2 linked regions of the Homo sapiens genome follow. The protein of the gene in region 2 purifies or fractionates together with the protein of the main gene of each other region. This does not show direct contact. Each region holds a gene or a part of one and is shown on either strand. Other genes may lie near its edges.

The links. The genes of interacting proteins can lie anywhere in the genome.
Region 1: the proteins of MLYCD (region 2) and TAMM41 purify together in Homo sapiens (co-immunoprecipitation; one large-scale study listed by IntAct). This does not show direct contact.

What each region holds. Positions count from the first base shown.
Region 1 is NC_000003.12:11,811,590-11,815,885, forward strand, and holds part of TAMM41 (phosphatidate cytidylyltransferase, mitochondrial isoform a precursor), read right to left. Parts: intron 1-4,296. UniProt on the Homo sapiens protein: Catalyzes the conversion of phosphatidic acid (PA) to CDP-diacylglycerol (CDP-DAG), an essential intermediate in the synthesis of phosphatidylglycerol, cardiolipin and phosphatidylinositol.
Region 2 is NC_000016.10:83,904,021-83,909,114, reverse strand, and holds part of MLYCD (malonyl-CoA decarboxylase, mitochondrial), read right to left. Parts: intron 2,129-5,094; coding exon 2,016-2,128; intron 990-2,015; coding exon 833-989; intron 1-832. UniProt on the Homo sapiens protein: Catalyzes the conversion of malonyl-CoA to acetyl-CoA.

The DNA.
Region 1 (4,296 bases), on a different chromosome or scaffold from region 2:
AATAACGAAAGTGAAAGCATTCAGCTAAACTGTGAAAGTCAAATTGCATTTTAAAAGCGGACATGGATACAATTATTATATGTCAACTTAAGAAAAAAGCAGATATGGAAAAAACTTTATATGATTCCATGCATATGAACTGTCCAGAACAGAAAAATTACAGAGACAGAAGTGGATTAGTGGTTGCCTGGGTGAGGGGAGAGCTGGGGACGGCTAAAGGGTATGGAGTGACAGAAATATTCTAAAATTACATTGTGGTGATGGCTGTGCAGCTCTGTGACTATACTATAAACACTAGCTTTTATGGTGTATGAGGTATTCATCAATAAAGCTAATATTTTGTTATTATTATTTTTGAGACAGAGTCTCGCTCTGTTGCCCAGGCTGGAGTGCAGTGGCGCGATCTCAGCTCGCTGCAACCTCCATCTCCTAGGCTCAAGTGATTCTCATGCCTCAGCCTCCCGAGTAGCTGGGATTACAGGCGCACACCACCATGCCTGGCTAATTTTTGTATTTTTAGTAGAGATGGGGTTTCACCATGTTGGCCAGGCTAGTTTTGAACTCCTGGCCTCAACTGATCCACCCACCTCAGCCTCCCAAAGTGCTGGGATTAAAGGCATGAAGCTGCCATTCTCTCCCCCTGGCCAAAAGAGTAAAGAAAAAATAAAACCATATCCCAGGACGAATGGCAGAGATGAGCACCACCTGTAGACCTAAAAGATGCAAGGGTAAGGCAGATAATTTTATGTGTCAACTCAGAGCAGTGGCACAGCCTGAAGACACTGTCCTGCGAGGATGAGTTGTGCTACACATCCTGAATCAATCACCATTACGCTGTACTATATTCCCAACTGGCAGAAGACATGGGCCTGGGGACCAAGGGTAGAAAGAGAAGTGACCTTGCTTATCGTCATTCCCAGGGACCCACTTGGGAACACTTTGCTTCCTATCACTACAGCTCTAGATCTGTGGGTCTAGAGGTCCCAGTTCCCAGAGAAGGGATGCTTCTACCAGAGGACATAGTAAGCATCCCATTAACTTTAAGTTACGACTGCCACCCAATTAATTTAGAATCCCATGCCGTAAGTCCAGCAGACAAGGCAATGAGTCACTACACTGGCAGAAGCAATCGGCCCTGGTCATCAGGAGCTGGGGTGCTGATACACGTCTCTTAGAGTACCCCTTGCCCAATTTTGATGGTTAGTGGACAAGTGCGGTAGCCAGGGTCCTCCAGACTCCTCCGAGATGAGGGTCTGGGCCACCCTGTCTAGATAAGCAGAAGTGATAGATGAGGGTGAAGGGAATCTGGAGGAGTAGCAGAGATGGGAGAAGATGAGTCTCAGTTGCAGCCTCAAGGCCAGATACAGCACTGGGAGCTGTAGCTCAGTCCCCCAGTCTTATTCTTGTAAGTTTCCTGGGAAAAGAAACTGATGCGAAACTAGATCATGCAGGCTTTTATAGGCCATAGGGAGGATTCTGGATACCTTTATTTTTATAGTTAGAGAAAATTCCTAGCCCTTTTCCCTTGTTCAGTTTCTAGAAAGTTGGTAGACAGACACATTATACTTCCCTGTCCTCTAGCCAGAGAATAGAAGATCTCTGGAGAAATTCTACAGACACTGATATTTGAGATCCTCCAATAAAACAGCTAGGTCCTTGGCCAGGTGCAGTGGCTCACACCAGTAATCCCAGCACTTTGGGAGGCTGAAGCGGGCAGATTACTTGAGGTCAGGAGTTCAAGACTAGCTTGGCCAATATGGTGAAACCTCATCTCTACTAAAAATACAAAAATTAGCTGGGTGTGATGGTGCATGCCTGTAGTTCCAGCTATTTGGGAGGCTGAGGCACAAGAATCGCTTGAACTTGGGAGGCGGAGGTTGCAGTGAGCCGAGATTGCGCCACTGCACTCCAGCCTGGGCAACAAAGAAAGACTCCATCTCAAAAAAACAAAACAAAACAAAATAGCTAGGTCTTTGCCTCATAATCCTATAGTCAAGCCCACCAGTTGACAAGCCTGATATATCACAAAGAACTTCCAGCCTGTATTTTAGTGCCTCATTCTTTAAAAACAGGCCAGAGCCAGGAACGGTGGCTCTTGCCTGTAATCCCAGTACTTTGGGAGGCCAAGGCAGGAGGATCGCTTGAGCCCAGGAGTTCGAGACCAGCCAGGGCCAACAAAGTGGGACCCTGTCTCTACAAAAAAAAATTTAATGTCTCAGATCATATGGGTACAAATATATGTGTGTGTGTGTGTGTGTGTGTGTGTGTATGTATGTATATATATGTATATATGTATATATGTGTATATATGTATATATGTGTGTATATATGTATATATGTGTGTATATATGTGTATATATATGTATATATACATATACACACATACACACACACCTGTGTATACACACACACACACACACACACACACACATAAAAAAATCAGCTGGGCATAGTGGCATGGGCCTGTAGTCGCAGCTCCTCAAGAGGCTGAGGTGAGAGGATCACTTGAGTGCAAGAGTTCAAGGCTGCAGTGAGCTATGATCATGCCACTATACTGTAGCCTAGGTGACAGAGTGAAATCCCCTCTCAAATTGATTAATTCATTAATTAATTTAAAAAATCAGGCCAGGAAGGAAACTCAGACATTTGAAAAAAGCTTCTAACATAACAGACTAGAGTAAAAACAGACAAGAGGAACTAAGAGAAAGAAAACAGTGTGAGAGAACAAGACAAAATCTTCAAAAGTTATAATAAAGATCATTAAAGAGATTAGGAGAAAATAATGCATCCATAATACAAGAATAGGAAGCTATAAGAAAGAACATTTTGGGAAAATTAAAAATTTAGTAGAAGTGTTAGAAAACCAATCAGAAATATTCTCCCATAAAGCTAAATTTAATAAACGAAGAGACGAGAGAGAGAGAGAGAGAGAAAGGAAAAAAGGTTAAACCAGGAGGTCTAGCAACCACCTAACAGGAATCCCAGGAAGAACAAACTAAGAAAATGGGTATGAAGAAATAATTACAGAAATAATAAAAAAAATTCCTTAGAATTGAAGCTTATAAAATTCCAGATAGAAAAGGCCCACTGAGGCTGGGCGCTGTGGCTCACACCAGTTAACCCAATACTTTGGAAGACCAAGGTGGGAGGATGGCTTGAGCCCAGGAGTTTGAGACCAGCCTGGGCAATATGGTGAAACTGTTTCTACTAAAAACACAAAAACCAGCCAGGCGTGGTGGCGCGTGCCTGTAGTCCCAGTAGTTACTCAGGAGGTTGAGGTGGGAGAGTCACTTGAGCTTGGGAGTTTGAGGTCGCAGTGAGCTGGGATTACGCCTCTGCACTCTAGCCAGGGCAACTGAGCAAGGCCCTGTCAAAAAAGAGAAAGAAAGAAAAGAAAGAAAGAAAGAGCCCACCAAGTGACTGAATAATGAATGGAAAACAGACATAAATAAAGAAGGAAAATTATCTCCACCCTAGAATTTGATATCTAGCCAATACTATCTATCAAAGGGAGGGTAGAATTTTCAGAGGTATATAGTCTCAAAAACTTGCCTCCCTCACACCCTTTAAGAAGGTAATAAAAGACAAACTTCACTAATATCAGAGTATAAACCGTGGAAGAGGAAAATGCAAGACCCACAAAACCAAAAACTAGCACGGGGGAGGCAAAGGGAATTCTCAGGGTGATAATGAAGGGAAGGTGGAGGAGTGCGGCTGTGCAGTGAGCTAGAAAACAACCAGTTGAGAAAGGAACAGGGCAGGGGGCTCCAGGAAAAACATTCCTGTGAGAAACAAGAAACAGAAAATACCCAATAAATCTGTCTATAATGGGAAGAGTTTTACGGATCTGTCAAGAGTTTGAGGATGACTGACCTAAGCAACTGAAAAAATAAGACAACTATTAACTCCAGGAGAAACAAAGTTGTACAGGAAAAGGAACTTCATAATGCCACAGCTCATCAATAAAGAAAAGGCTGTCACAATAAAATAAACATTGAATATTAAGCTAACAAAAAATATGAAGTAACTTTATGTGAAGCATGAGGGCGTGAGGTAGAAGGGGAAGAGAATGTGTGTGCTAAGTGCATGTGTGTGAGTGTGTAATTGGTATAAGAATTGATGGGGTAGTGTAAGACGGTAAAAAAAATCCCCTTCTTCCAGGATGGCAAAAATAAAGTGTAAGATTGAAAAAAAATCAAGAAATAATAGTCGAAGCATATTATTTAGAACATGGAGGTGAATATCAGAAGAATCAGCTATAGAGACGAAAGCAGCTGCCTCTGGTAAGCAGGGCTG
Region 2 (5,094 bases):
CTCTTTCACACACAAACATTGTAAGGGAATGTGTTTCTCCTTGGTGATCAGGAATGTCTGCTCATTTGCCCTACTCAGCTTCTCTAACTTCTCAGCAGGACACCTGCTTAGGGCACTCATCTTGTGATGGGCCATCATCCACTTAGCTTCCTAACAGCCACTCATGTCCTCTTGGTCTGAGCAAACCTGCAATGCCCCAGGGGTCTCATGCTCCCTGCCACCTATCTTTAGCACTCCTATTTCCAGACCCTGCAATGTGCTCCCTGGTTCTTCTGCCCCCACGGGCCTGCAGGAGTGTTTCAGACATTCTTGCCAAACTCATCCAGGAGCAGAGCAGCTTGCCACAGACGGGGCTATCAACCACAAGTCCCATAACCTCCACTCGCCAAGGAGTGTCCTCGGCCCACATCAAGCATAAGGGATGGAGTGCCTCTTTCAATTTTCTAATCAAGTATCTTTCAAAACTCCCCACAGGCATTTAACAAAAGCTGTAAAGGTAAACTATGTATGAATCAGGTATCTGTCCCTTCTTCCTTCACAATTATTTTCTGCCTCACAAACATGTTCTGTGATAGACTTTAACTGTATCTCAACCTAAGATCAACACAGCCAGATGAATGCTCGCCTTGCTCCATAACTGTCTGCCTGTTACACTTCTACGCTCTACACCTACAAATCTGGAGATTTTATTTAACCAATTTAAAAAAGCCCAAAACCATTTATTTAAAAAAAAAAAAAAGGAGGATAAAATCAAGTAAAAACAAAACAAAACAAAAAACACAAGGGGCTCTATGGGGTGCCCATCTTGTCCCGAATTGACCATCGCAGGTACCTGGATGTTGCTGGAGATGTCACCAGTCAGTGCCACGTGCAAAACGACCAGGGGCTCCCCAGGGGTCGAACAGTGAGAAAAGAAGTAACACCTTCTGTAGGGCCCAACGCGGCGCTTCATGTCCATCCAGTTTTTTACAGGATGCACAGCCTCAGCCCTGGGGCGGAATTTATAAAGAGACAAGACAAATGCATAATTCACAAGCAACGGCTGCTGACTCCTATTCATACTATTCGTCTAAGTCAAACAAGTTCTTTAAATAGAGCTTTAATGGACTCTTCTGGAAAATTCAAAGAAAGTCATTTTCATGAGAAACAGCACCCACTGAGAGGAACTACAGTGAATGACCATTTTACACACAAAATTGTGCTCCAGTTTTAACCCCAGTTTTAAAAGGAGTTTGTGAGGCTCCGGGGAAGGATTCATGCAGATTTTAACGTGAAACCTAATCAAACGCTTGGTGTTGAACACTGTCTTTTCTTTCCTTGGGATCTCTGTGAAGCCGTCAGTGCTGCAATCAGGGGGCTCATCTGGTGTCTTCCAGCAATCTCGCCCCACCGCTATTTTGTTTTCAGCATGTGAAATGGCAGCAGGCACTGTCAGCCCTTTGAATTGAATTGGTTACATTTCAAATAGGACACTTTTCAAACCATGGATTCCATGGGACAACATGTAATGTGAAGATGCCTACGTGCAAAGGTAGTGAAGGCACCGTGACATGCTAGCCTGTGTCATACGGGTCCTGGATGTAACTAACACATGATATAGTTTGTTTAGAGATTTTAACTCAGGGAGAAATCTTAACCACCAGGTGGGCTAAATACTGTTTTGATTACGAATGCAAACGCTTGGTCCAGTGAGTTTCTACAACTCTGATCACGGGGTCTTGGGACGAGCGAAAATGGGTGTGTTTGCTTTAAATAAGAGGACACAAATAAGACCTCACACGCAGGTCACTGACAGACATATCAGTTTCTCTTGGTGCCCTTTCGTCTTCCTCCATAATCTTAGTATCATGTGTGGTGACAGCCGCAGCATTTGCAAATACTGTGTTTGGATTTTATTAGACTTGAAATAAACTGTACATATGAATGGAGATAGATTAGCTTTTAGCCAATATAAAACATACACAAATATATATGAAAAATGTATGTACAAAGAAAATGAAAACCGTAATACTTACTCACTGATTTTCTGAAGCACTTCACACGGTGAATGCCAGGTAACCCGTTCTAGGTTCAGGAACCCGGAGGAAAACCATTCTGAGAGCATTCCTTTCAGCACCCCATTCATTTCCTGAAAAGGAGAAGATAAATCCCAGGCCTCCAATGTGCGACAGATCAAGCCCATCTCTGTGTTGTGGTCAGCACAAGGAATGAAAACACTCAAGCACGATACATAAGACAATTGTGCAAGACAACTCTCCAAACAGCTTTTCCCAAGATTCCTCTGTCAGACATCTTATCTCAAACCAAGTCAGGCTTTCTTTCGTTCAACGCTCTATTTAGACTTAACTACTTCAGTCTGTTAAGACCTCTGAAGGAAACAATTCAATTTGAACTAAGTTGCCCAAATCAAATAATATCTTCCAATTCGTTCACCATAGTGAGCATACTAATCATATAAAATCAACATAACAATGAAAGATGCACTGTAAGGGAAACACTAAGACAGCAAGGGTGTCAACAGCACTGTCCTCATCCTCTCGGGAACCTTCTTTGATACGTCAAAACATTACGCCTACATTTCCTAAGAAAGACAAGTACTTGGTTCAGGAACCCTATTTCATCAACTCAGAGATGTACATTTTCATATTTTAACATCTCTCAAGTCAGGATGCATCTTTCGAATGATGGCGGGTCACAGACTAATTGGCAGCATTTTTGTTTTAAGAGACGGGGTCTCACTCGGTCACCCAGGCTGGAGTGCAACAGCATGAACACGGCTCGCTGCAGCCTTGACCTCCTGGGCTCATGTGGTCCTCCTGTCTCAGCCCCCCAAGTAGCTGGGACTGCAGGTGAGCGCCACCAAGCCTGGATAATTTTTTTTTGTCTTTTTTGTAGAAATGGGGTTTTGCCACGTTGCCCAGGCTAGTCTCGAGCTCCTGAGCACAGGCAATCTGCCTGCCTCGGCCTCTCAAAGTGCTGGGATTACAGGCGTCAGCCACTGTGCCCCGCCGTAACTGGCAGCATTTTTAACCTACCTTAGAGGGACATAAAATAATAGCGTATCTGGCAACCAATGCATTTCAGAGTTGATGAAATTATCCTAATTTTGCCTCACTTATTTATATTGTATCTACTTCCAAAAATGATGTGAATTGACTTGACCACCCAAGATACATCTGCACTGAAGCTTTTCCAGCAAGAGCAGAACACAAGGCCCTGAGCAGGAGCAGCGTCGCCTCGGTGCTGCCTGCACAGCCACAGCTTGTTGTTCCCCGATGGCTGTACCCCTTTTCTTTCAAATTAACAGAAGCCTCACTTTTCAGCTAGGGACACAGCTGTCCAGAACAAAGATTGCACTGCGGCTGGGGGCAGCCATGTGACAGAGTTCTGGTCAATGAGGGGTAAGCAGAGGTCTCCTGCAGCCACTTTGGGGAACTTGAAAAGACAGCAGGAGCAGGCCCTTGGCCCATCTTTTTCTTTGTCCTTTCCACTGCAGACTGGAAGGCGGTGTGATGGCTGGCATTGGAGCAGCCATCCTGGGCCACGACGTGGCTTTGGAGATGAAGGTTTTTCTCGGCAGAGCAACAAGATTCAAGTCTGAATCCACCAAGAGCACCAAAGAGCAGAATCAGCTCTGGGCTGCCCACCTCTAGACTTTCACATGACAGACAAACTTCTGTCATATTCAAATCACTGTTATTTTGGGTCTTTGTTACTCATAAACTACATAGTAACAGATCCACTGAACATTATTATTAAATAACAGTAAACATCTCAGGACATCTGATACAAGAATGACCTTCTGAATCTCTCTACAAGGGTCATAAAGAACACAATGGGCAACACCTATAAGAATGGCTTTACAACAGCTAGAATTTTTTTTTTTTTTTGAGAGATGGAGTCTTCCTCTGTCACCCAGGCTGGAGTGCAGTGGTGCAACCCTGGCTCACTGCAACCTCTGCTCCCTAGGTTCAAGCGATTCTCCTGTCTCAGCTTCCAAATTTTATAAAACAATTTTACATTTTAATCCCTGTTAAAGGGTGAAAGGACTCAGAACTTTGACGCCTGAGAAAGAGTTGCAGGTTTTGGGGTGATGGCTCAGAGAAGTTTTCGGAAGGAGATGAGGTCTCCTTTTACATGTTTAAGCACTAGGGCACGAAAGAGGCCACAAATTTGTTCTGTGTGACCCCATGGGGGCCGGGGAAGGAAATCTAGGACTGACTGGTGGAAGTCATGGGCAGTCAGATGTGGACTCAATTTAGTGTAAAGAGGAACTTTTGAATAGCTGGAGCTGTCCACAGAGGTCATCCTGGGAGACGGTGACCCTCAGCACTGGAAGCCATCAAGCACAGGTGGACAGAACTCAACGGAGCTGTTTGAAAACGGATTTAAGCATTAGATAGACAGCTGGACCAGAAGATCTTTGCAATTCCTTTTAACTCTACATTCCATGACTCAATCTCCTTTACTTGGTTGTAAACGCCATAAAAGCAGGATCCACTTCTGATTCATTTTTATAGTTCGCAAAGCATTCACTAATAGATTGATATCAAATGAAAAAGATGGAAAAATGGAATGAATCGTGATTAGGAAGTAGCAAGAGGGCAGGATGAAAGAGATCATTTGCTAGGTGACACAGAATGGCCCTTTGTAAAACTGTACTTTCTGCATTTGACTATAGCAATTCTTAATCTTCCTGGGATCCTCTCACACTCTTACGTGCTAAAAACCATAGGCCCTGCCCCCAAAACACTGCAAATACATTAGTAAAATTGTGCATACGTTTTCCTGGGGTACATGGACTCCTCTGATACTTATCTATGGACCATCCCAGGGGCCAGGAGGGCTTCTGTACCCCAGTTTAGGAACGGATGAGCTGAGCTCTGCGTAAGAGGTACTGGTATCTGTCTTACATTCGTGATATGAAAAAAGCTGGAAATACCTAGTTTTACTATCAATTTAATATTAATTATGAAAGAAATGGTTTGGCTGATGAAAGCTCCTCCCCTACAGATCTCTTCATTCTATTTTGGGCTCCTGACAGCTACAAAATGTGACACTGGTACACGAGAACTGGGAATCCAGGCTAAAGGT